3 linked regions of the Homo sapiens genome follow. The protein of the gene in region 1 purifies or fractionates together with the protein of each later gene. This does not show direct contact. Each region holds a gene or a part of one and is shown in the gene's direction. Other genes may lie near its edges. The genes, in order: HTATIP2, ASAH1 and RCC2.

Region 1 (3,652 bases):
GTATTTTTAGCAGGCTCCTTGGGAGATCCTGATGCAGTCAACCCTGTCCTTCTTGTTGAACCTACTTTCAAGAGGCATTGGGGTGTATTAATTCCCCTCACTTGCTGGTTTTCTGGGTACTGTGGTCCTGGATAACCTTTGCCTTGCTTTAGTGAGTAACTTGTTTGCTAGTGAAGATTGAAATAGCCTTTGAAAACCAGATCTGTATTGTCCTGGAGTGAAGCACAAAAACTTAGAGATGCCAGTGAGAATAGTTCATTTCCCCTTATTTGTATCAAAAGAGGGATTTGATTAGTGAATTCAAGGTGGTTCGATGTGGTTTCACCTTTTCATTTGTTTCCTCACCTGGTCGTAGTAGGCTCCAGAAGTCCAGGTTCTTGTTTTCTGTTGAGTGGATGATGTCATTAATGTGATTAGTGTGGCCACTGTGACATTTATTAGGCATCTCATGGCCCATCTCATTAGAACCTTATGGCTTCTGATTCTAATGATCTGCTCTTCTAATTCAAAGGTTTGCAATACAGCCTGCCACCTGTTTTTGTACACCCTGTGAGCTAAGAATGTCTTTATGTATATATTTTTTTTTTGAGACGGAGTCTCGCTCAGTTGCCCAGGCTAGAGTGCAGTGGCGCAATCTCGGCTCACTGCAAGCTCCGCCTCCTGGGTTCACGCCATTCTCCTGCCTCAGCCTCCCAAGTAGCTGGGACTACAGGTGCCCACCACCATGCCCAGCTAATTTTTTGTATTTTTAGTAGAGATGGGGTTTTACCGTGTTAGCCAGGATGGTCTCGATCTCCTGACCTCGTGATCTGCCCGTCTTGGCCTCCCAAAGTGCTGGGATTACAGGCGTGAGCCACCGCACCCGGCCTATATTTTTAACTGGTTAAAAAATTCAAAAGAATAATGTCATACCATGTGAAAATATAAAAACTTCAAATTTTAGTCTTTATACATAAAGTGGTATTGGGACACAGCCATGCTTATTACTTTATGTATTATCTGTGGCTGCTTTTGTGCTATTAACATAATGGTAGAGCTATATAGTTGCAACAGAGGCCTGCAAAGCTAAAAATAGTTACTGTCTGATCCTTTACAGGAAAAGTTTGCCCACCCTTGTTCTAATCTCTGTTGTTTATTTGATGTCTAGGAGGGGGCTTGTGAAGTGGCGAGGTCCTAGCTGGTTCAAGGGACCCAGATCACAGGCCCTGTTTGGTTGCCAAGTAGCTATGGAGCCTGGAGTTTGCTGGTTAGCTTTTGGAGGCCACTACCTCCTTGTCTGTCAGAAGGAGGTGACCAGTGAACCCACCTTCCTACTGCAAAATTCTTAAACATTTTTCTGTTTTTTTGAGACAGAGTCTCATTCCATCGCCCAGGCTGGAGTGCAGTTGTGTGATTTCGGCTCACTGCAGGAGTGCGATTTCGGTCACTGCAGCCTCCACCTACCCAGCTCAAGCAATCCTCCCACCTCAGCCTCCCAAGTAGCTGGGACCACAGGCATGCGCCACCATGGCTGGCTAATTTTTGTATTTTTTTTTGTAGAGACAGGGTTTTGCCATGCTTCCCACCCAGGCTGGTCTTGAACTCCTGGGTTCAAGTGATCTGCTTGCCTCGGCCTCCCAAAGTGCTGGGATTACCATGAGCCATCGCACCCGGCCTGAAAAATTCTTTGACTCTATGAAACACAGAAGAAAGAATATCCAATTGGAAAACTTTTTCAAGAACATATAGATTGACCCAGGAATCCTCAGTATCTGCTTGATTTTATTTATCTATCCAGAACTTCTCTAACCAAGATCTTTCCCCTACCATTGAACATCAAATATGGAGATGCCCTCCAGGACACAAACAAAAGGTGCCTCAGATTATACCATTTGGTGTTTGTCAGCATCTTTGTTTTCTAGTCTAATTTATAGGGTTGGATTGAAAGGGAGTGAAGGAGAAAGAACCTGAAGCAGAAATAGGGCTGAATGGGACCTTTACAGAATGATAGACCCACCCTTCTTGGAAAAAGATCCCCATGATTTACTTTTTTATAAATTAATTAATTTTTTAGAGACAGGGTCTCACTGTGTTGCCAAGGCTAGACTCAAATTCCTGGGATCAAGCGATCTTCCTGCTTCAGCCTCCTGAGTAGCTGGGACCACAGACCACCGTGCCTGACCCCATGACCTTCTTGAGTCGTTTAGACGTGCTAACTTGTCCTATCAGTCAGCACTGAAATACTATACCTTGTTAGGATGAGTTGTTCTGAAGCCAGAATGTTGTTTTTAGTTTTCAGGCACTGGTAAAGAAGATTAGAAGAAATACTTAGTAGCTTTGGATTTTAGTAAGACTTAAGAGTCGTTGGAGAATTTGCTGCCTTTGATGTTGTGGAGCCTATGAGGATATCTCTACTGAGTGTAGTATACTGTGTTTATTCTTTTTGAGAGGGTGCTGGGAAAGGACTTTATAGTGGGAACTTATTTAATTAATTCCTTTTTCTAGAAGGGACTCAGATTCCTAGCTTAGAGCAGGACACATTGGCTATGGAATCATAAAGACAGAATGACATGTGGACTTAATACTCTCAGAAGAGATGTCTGTCCACATGGTTAGGGAAACTAAGTACAGTTTTTCTAAAAATTGTGTTTCTGAGATATGAAATAGCTTGCTTTAGTTAGTTTTTCTGTTGTTTTTTTAATCGAGCTATTGGAGAACAATAAAGGGCATGAATAAGATTTTCGAGATCGCTCCTTTCATCTGTAAATAGAATCTTCCTCACTCCAGAGAAAATTGGTGTGTGATACCTCCTAGTCAGTCATCAGGACCCATGCTTCAGTTTGATTTTTAAGTCTTTGAAAGCTGTTGACCCTTTTGCTTTTGAGTTTCATTCACCAGCTAAAAGGCCACGCCATCAGGGTGACGGAAGTGAAATTCAAAATTTAGTGGGCTTGGAAAAACGCGTATTTATAATGAGCTTGAAGGCTCAGAGGATTTGTGAAATCGTTTTGGATTAACAGCCATTGATTGCTAATAAAACAATATTTAGCTTTGTCCAGAGAACAGCAATGGAGAAAGGTATGGGCACCTTGTCAACAGGCCCCATTGAGCAGGGATGATGGGCTAAGTGTGGGGGTCTCTGCAGCAGCGTGGGTGCTCGTCCTTCAAGGAGCGGTTGTCAGTCGTTAGCGAGGCGGGTGAAAGGAAGGACGCCAAAGTCTGATGGCCGGGGTGGTATTGATGTGCCTTCGCTGACTAATCAGATTGAAAAAGTCCCATGGTATTTATGTCACTTTAATTTTCATCAAACAATTGGAGACGACAGCACTCTATTAAGGAGAGGTTGATCCAGAACTAAAGCCAAATAAATTAGGGTCTCAGTTTAATCAAATTATCCTTTTACTGGCTCTGGATTAAGTGAGAGAGACAGCGTCGGTCAGGAGACTTGTGATTGGCTGAATCTTTCCCTTATTTTTAAAGAAACGGATGAAAGAAAAAGTATTTTAACAGACTACTATAATAATCCTTCCAATCAATCTTGCTAAAACAACAACAACAAAAAAACTGAATTTATTTCACTAGTCAACTGTGTCATTTTGTTGTGAATAACTAACCTGTCATTAAAATCAGAGTTCTGATAAACTGGCATGAGGGGAAGAAACAGATGTGGAAG
Region 2 (3,652 bases), on another chromosome or scaffold:
TTACCAATGGTGGATTACCTAAATTGTATTCGATTGTAGTAGCAGAAGTATTGTGTCCAGGGAAAATGAAATTATTTTACATGTCATTGAGAACCCTTGTCCTGGACTTTGGGAAGAACATCAATATCAATTAAAGAACAAAGCATGTGATTTTTGAGTGATTTTTCTTGACTGTCAACATACCGATAACTGATCAGTTGTTGATATTTATTAGATGATCATTGCCAAGTTTGAAGTGACTGAAGAGTTAGCCTCTGAATCATCTGTATAAAACAACTACAGGCGAGGATGTTTTCGAAGAAGCTGAGAAAATAATGATTGAGTATAACCTGGAATGGAATCTGCTAAGATCTATAAAAATTGACAGTAGTAAAAATATTTGTGAGTAGAAAAAGGCGGAGTTGAGCAAATTCACAAAACTTGTGAACATGCGAGGTGTTTAAAGCTCATGGTTATTTATTATAGTATTCCTTTTCAGATATTTTGTGGAAAATATTGGAATCTCACATGTGTTATTGAACCGGCAATATAAACCATGAGCTTCATTTGCTCTTGTGGATATAACCGTCATCATTTCTGTGAATTATCAGAAATAGAGGCCGGATATCCTGATGTCTCTTGTGACAGAGCCATTAGATAGCTTGCTAGCTGTAAAGTTTTGCAGTCTTTGAGTTCACAGTTGAGACTGAAGTTTTTCTAAACGAGCTGCCCCCAGCCACTATTACTGAACACGAATGGCTTTGGAAATTAGCTTTTGCTACAGACTTGATATTGTTTCTTAATGAATTCAACGCAAAATTACCAGACAAAGCCAGACATATGTGAGAAACTTACAGTGTGGTAAGGCAAATTTGACAGCTAATGTTTGAATCACAGGTAATGTCAACCTACTTTATATATTCCCCATGTTATCAAAAGTTAAAACAAGGTGCTAGACCTCCATTCTTACACAGCTGTCCAGCAGATACATTTTCTGTGCTCAAGCTACAGTTCCAGGAGTTTTCTGAGCTCAAGCTACAGTTCCAGGAGTTTTCTGAGCTCAAGCTACAGTTCCAAGAGTTTTCTGAGCTCAAGCTACAGTTCCAAGAGTTTTCTTACCTACTCTACTTTATCTTATTTTGGATTTGTACTTTTTTAAAACAATTATTTTACTTTCACAGAACTGGTTCTCCAGAGGAAAGGAGATAAAGACACTTGATATGTTGAATGAGTAACAAAAGAATCATAAATCTGTGTGGACTTTTTTTGATAAGTTTAGGAGAAGGTTCCATTTTGCCACTAAGCTTGGACAACTTCCCCTAAAAGAGTCTGTTCATTCCTTGTCTCAGGCAGTGACGTCAGTGTTGGGGGCCGTCCTCACCTCAAGGAGCGCAGAGTCTGGTATTGACAAGGAACGCAAACAGATGATTATAAAGCAGTGTCATAAACATGTTGATGAGAGTGTGCACAAATGCTGTGGGAGGAAAGGAGGGTATGAATATTTTCATATGGAAGATAGATGAAGACTTCACAAGAAAGAAAATGCTTGAACTGAATCTTGGAAGTTAGAACCAGCAGTTCACCAGGTGGGGAAAAGGCATTCTAGCAAGAGGGAATAGCACAGACACAGGCATGGAAGGGTGAGAGATGATAGGAAGTGCCTGCGTATGGCTATAAATACTAAGGGGAGTGTCAGGAGATGAGGCTGGGATGGTAAGTTACCATGGAAAGATGATGAAGGGCCCTGTGCTGTGTGCCCTGAAAATCTGGTTTGGGAGGCAAATCCCAGGACAGGTTGCAACACACATGGCTGGTAAGTGCAGATAATACATCCTATCAGGTCATTTACTTTTAGTGCTAAGTCAGCCTCTCTAACATAAATATTTTCCATCTACTTTGTTACATTTGTTCGTTACTCAATATATTTGAAATATTAGAGCCAAATTATAACACCTAGCACTTTTACAAATTGAATTGAAACTGAAAATCCACTTAATGGTTTAGGATTTTAGAAGTTTTCTTGGAAAGAAAAGACTTATTTTAAGAGGCATTGAAACGTATAAAAGAGCAATATCAGACTTGATGTTGTCTTCACAGATTAACTACTTTTGAAATTGCTTATTCCGTTGGCAAGCATTTGTTATTTTCTGAAACTTAATTTTCTTTGCTTTTCAGTGGACAGAGGACTGCAGAAAATCAACCTATCCTCCTTCAGGACCAACGTGAGTAAACATCAGATGATCAAAACTCCCTTTGACCTTTGTGAAGTTTTTTCTGTATGTAATAATTGCTCATAAACGAACGATAGTGAATAAAATCTTAAGTCATGTTTCCCATTCCGAGACAGAGGTTTGTTTCTCAGATTTGTTTATTATGCATTTGGCTGAGATCTTGGACAAATATGAAAATATCTTCCGATTCAAATGCCCGTCGCTAGACTATCAAAATCATCGGAAAGAAAAGGATTTTCAGCCAGACGCGGTGGCTCACGCCTGTAATCCCAGCACTTTGGGAGGCCGAGGCGGGTAAATCATAAGGTCAGGAGATCGAGACCATGCTGGCTAACAGTGAAACCCCGTCTCTACTAAAAATACAAAAAATTAGCCAGGCGTGGTGGCGGGCGCCTGTAGTCCCAGCTACTCTGGAGGCTGAGGCAGGAGAATGGCGTGAACCCGGGAGGCGGAGCTTGCAGTGAGCCGAGATCGCACCACTGCACTCCAGTCTGGGCGACAGAGTGAGACTCTGTCTCAAAAAAAAAAAGGAAAGGATTTTCATTCTCCACTCAATTCTCCTGTCTACCATGAAGGGTTTTTCTCATCTTTGACAAATGTAAGGGCTGTATTTGAAATGACCTGTGATTCTCTATGGTGCCTGGATATAAACCACCAAATTATATTGTAACAAAAAAGCATAGGCCCTCATATGTGAAACGTTCTCAAAATAAACCTTGGCACAACAAAGCTGTCGAGGACAAAACAGGATTGGAACACCTAAGAGGAGGACCAATGTCATGATTCAGTGTGTTTAACATTAATATTTTTAGTCTAGATTTTGGTCTTTCCAAATCCTCAGTGTTTAAATGGGCCTGTGAGAAAGCCATAATAACAGCTCACAGACCCCTCAGAGTGTACAGAACAGAGAAAAGAAGGAACAGGTATAGGGGGTGGTGATCTTTTTCTCCTACACTGCCCTTTCGCTGAAAGTAGCCTGCTGTTTGTAGGGGGAAACAGTACAACTCTATCTAGTGATATCAAGATGACATTTTCAGTTCGTGCAACATTCCAAATTACTTACGTTGTACTGTTGTTGTCTAAACGATGTATTTTAAATAGCCTCTGTCCCAGATAGCGTGAAACTGTAATAAACTAAGTTCTTTTGACTTACTCGCCTTTATGTAGAAAGAGGCCAGTATTTGGCAGGAAGCAATTTAGAGGTAACCAGTTTGGATGTTGTTTGGGGCCAGTGTTCATTCCAGCTCTTTCTTCAATGGCCTGCTGTCTGAAAGTCTTCCTTTCTGTCATCACTGGCATCATTCTGGCCTTCAGTGACATGTCTGCCTTACTGATTGATTATGTCTCTCTGTTGGTCTCACTGCCCCAATTCATTGAACATTTAATGAGGTGCCTTCCATGTTTGAGGCCGTTTCTACTCCCTTTTAGGTGCACTTTACATG
Region 3 (3,652 bases), on another chromosome or scaffold:
TTGTATTTTTAGTAGAGACGGGGTTTCACCATGTTGACCAGGCTGGTCTCAAACGCTTGATCTCAAGTGATCTACCCGCCTCGGCCTCCCAAAGTGTTGGGATTACAGGCATGAGCCACCGTGCCCAGCCATGCCATTTAACTTTATTTTAAAGAGCTGTCACCCCTCTAGAGGGACAGGGAAGCCCGCTGTTCGATGTTTTCTGGAGTAGCTTCTGTCCTGTACTTCTGGAGAAAGCAGATGTGTGCAGCTCTTTAAAGGAGGTGGAAAAAGCAGTCACCAAATGTGCCTCCTCTCCTGTCTGGGAGTTGTGTCTGTTCAGTATCCACTGTGTCGATAGCAAATAAAAGGACTCTAATCATTTGTTGACTGCCTTGCTGAAACCTTGTCCGGAAGAGTGCAAGTGTTTAAAAATACCATTTTTGTGAGAAAAGTAGCGACATATCCGGAAATGCATTCTATTTACTGTGATGCTCTTACATTCATCGTAGCCTAGAAGGTGGGGGAATTTCTTAGTGGGGACCCTCAGACTTTTATTGTTTTTTTTGATACGGAGTCTTGCTCTGTCACCAGGCTGGAGTGCAGTGGCGCGATCTCGGGTCACTGCACCCTCCGCCTCCCGGGTTCAAGCGATTCTCCTGCCTCAGCCTCCTGAGTAGCTGGGACTACAGGCGTGCGCCACCACACCTGGCTAATTTTTGTATTTTTGGTAGAGACGGGGTTTCACCATGTTGGCCAGGATGGTCTCAATCTCTTGACCTCGTGATCCGCCGACCTCAGCCTCCCAAAGTGCTGGGATTACAGGCGCGAGCCACCGCGCCCGGCCAAGACCCTCAGACTTTTAAACGGACAGATGTTCCACTGGAAGGGATTATGTCAACAGTAGAGAACTGCTGTCATAAGACAGTGATAGTGAGCAGAGATCATGCCACCGCACTCCAGCCTGGGCGACAGAGCGAGACTCTGTCTCAAAAAAAAAAAAAAAAAAATAGAACCTGCTTATGAGATGAGTGTTATAAGGCGCCCTGTAAACAAGCCCAGGAGTTTTATTGTGTGTAGCGTAGTTGTGATTCCAGGGTGCAGTTGCTCCTTGGTAACCTGGGGGATTGCTTCCAGTACCCCCTGTGGATACCAAGATCTTAAGATGCTCAAGTACCTTATATAAAATGGCATAGTATTTGCATGTAACCTGTACACTTAAAATCATCTCTAGATTACTTCAGTACCTAATGTGATGTAAATGTTATGTAAGTAGTTCTACTGTATGGTCTTACTTGTATTGTTTGTATTATCTTTTTTTTTTCCTTGTTTCCTCCTCCCCCCAGATATTTTTGGACCACTGTTGGTTGAACCTGTGGCCATGGAGGGCTGACTGTATTTAAATAGCACAGTGCTCAAAAACACACATACCAATAAGGGCTGAGGTGCACACCAGCGTGCCGTATGGAGGGGGATTAGCCACAAGCCGGGGGCTAGTTTACAAACTGATAACAACAAGTTTTTTTGTTTGTTTTTTTTTGGAGACAGAAACTTGTTCTGTCGCCCAGGCTGGAGTGCAGTGGCATGATCTCTGCTCACTGCAACCTCCACCTCCCAGGTTCAAGCGATTCTTCTGCCTCAGCCTTCCCAAGTAGCTGGACTATAGGCACCCACCACCACGCCCAGCTAATCTTTGTTTGTTTGTTTTTGTTTTTTAAAGTAGAGACAGGCCTTCACTGTGTTGGCCAGGCTGGTCTCAAACACCTCACTTCAGGTGATCCACCCACTTCGGCCTCCCAACGTGCTGGGATTCCAGGCGTGGCCCACCGTGCCCAACCAAACTGATGATCACAGTGTGGGAACAGGAGCAGTTTAAAACTATAAACTACTTAGCAGCCCTGCTGCTGCAGGTGGCTGCAGGAGCTTGGGTGTCTGGCGTGTTCTCAGGACTGGAGCAGCCGGGCTTCTGGTGTGTGGTGTGCTGAGCTGGGTCTTTGCGAACCAGTCCCTGGGTCATTCGGAGTGTGGGAATTGCAGGCTTTAGCCACCCGTAACCATACGTTTAGGTTACTGGTAATTCATAAAAACAGAGGCCTGGGATTGTGTATGGAGCTTTTCTGTCTATTCTTGGTCTTTTAGGGGCTCCTTGTGGTCCCTCCAGTGGGGTAGAGATCTTACTTGATAGACCATTCCTTGATCAGCAGCTTCAACTTTTTTGACTGCAACCCATTGTAAGAAATAAGTTTTCTTTTGCAACCCAATCTGAACGTATAATACCTTACCTGGAATTGTTGTAACATGGTGCCATTATTATGTGTAGAGTATTCTTTGTCATTCTGTTCTATTCGTTTTTAAAAAATAACTGGTCTTAGCTCACAAAATTGATTTCACTGACCCACTCACTGTGCTGTGCCTAAGATTGGAAATGCTGCCTTTGTTGACCAACGTGTGCTGGTCTAAGGCCCAGAAGGGCCAGATTGGGGTGCTGCCGGGGCTCACTACAGAGTCCGTGTGAGCACACTGACACGTCCCTTGTGCTTGTGCTGCTGCTGATGGCCGGCTCTGTGGTCTCTACAGGACACAACTCAGATGGGAAGTTCATCGCCCGGGCACAGCGGATAGAGTACGACTGTGAACTAGTTCCCCGGCGAGTGGCCATCTTCATTGAGAAGACGAAAGATGGACAGATTCTGCCTGTACCAAACGTGGTTGTACGAGACGTGGCCTGTGGCGCTAACCACACGGTGAGGCTCGGCTTTTCTCACTTCCTGAGAGTCGCACCAGGATGGAAGGGGTGTTTATGCTCAAGTTTCCTGACGCTTGGCTTTGGCTAGGAACTGATCCCAGGTAGACATCTGCTTGCTTCTTCAAGAGGGCTTTGCACCTTGGCCAAAGGGTCCTTGGTCCCAGGGCAGGGTTCCCTGTCACTGCCTCCTATGTTAACTTCTCCCGTGATTTAAATAGACACATCTTAAACACGTAGATGTTTTGCCGCCCTCACCTGCACCTTAAGGTAAGCACTTTCTGCTTTTGGCTTTTATCTAACATAACATCACAGACATCTTTCCAGGTCAGTAGATGGTGCCCCATACTGGGGATGTGAGTCGTTTTTAATCAGTAGGTTGTCCCCCCCGCCCCCCCCCCCTTTTTTTTTTGGAGACAGTTTCACTCTTGTTGCCCAGGCTGGAGTGCAATGGCGTGATCTCGGCTCACCACAGCTTCCACCTCCCAGGTTCAAGCAATTCTCCTGCCTCAGCCTCCCGAGTAGCTGGGATTACAGGCATGCGCCACCATGCCCCGGCTAGTTTTGTATTTTCAGTAGAGACAGGGTTTCTCCATGTTGGTCAGGCTGGTCTCAAACTCCTGACCTCAGGTGATCTGCCCACCTCGGCCTCTCAAAGTGCTGGGATTACAGGTGTGAGCCACCACGCCTGGCCTAGGTTGTTTCTTTAAAGGTCACTTTAGATAAACTGCAGTGCAATCTTTTGTTTGTGTATCTTTTTTTTTTTTATTTGAGGCGGAGTTTCACTTTTTCACCCAGGCTGGAATGCAGTGGTGGGATCTCAACTCACTGCAACCTCTGTCTTCCTGTTTCAAGCTATTCTCCTGCCTCAGCCTCCTGAGTAGCTGGGATTAGAGGCACCTGCCACCATTCCTGGCTAATTTTGTATTT

Evidence for each region.
Region 2: the proteins of HTATIP2 (region 1) and ASAH1 purify together in Homo sapiens (affinity purification with mass spectrometry; one large-scale study listed by BioGRID and IntAct). This does not show direct contact.
Region 3: the proteins of HTATIP2 (region 1) and RCC2 fractionate together in Homo sapiens (co-fractionation; one large-scale study listed by BioGRID). This does not show direct contact.

The regions. Positions count from the first base shown.
Region 1 is NC_000011.10:20,370,081-20,373,732, forward strand, and holds part of HTATIP2 (protein HTATIP2), read left to right. Parts: intron 1-3,652. UniProt on the Homo sapiens protein: Represses translation by preventing reactivation of elongation factor eEF1A. May also inhibit nuclear import by competing with nuclear import substrates for binding to a subset of nuclear transport receptors.
Region 2 is NC_000008.11:18,074,090-18,077,741, reverse strand, and holds part of ASAH1 (acid ceramidase isoform a preproprotein), read left to right. Parts: intron 1-2,154; coding exon 2,155-2,201; intron 2,202-3,652. UniProt on the Homo sapiens protein: Lysosomal ceramidase that hydrolyzes sphingolipid ceramides into sphingosine and free fatty acids at acidic pH.
Region 3 is NC_000001.11:17,415,551-17,419,202, reverse strand, and holds part of RCC2 (protein RCC2), read left to right. Parts: intron 1-2,556; coding exon 2,557-2,723; intron 2,724-3,652. UniProt on the Homo sapiens protein: Multifunctional protein that may affect its functions by regulating the activity of small GTPases, such as RAC1 and RALA. Required for normal progress through the cell cycle, both during interphase and during mitosis.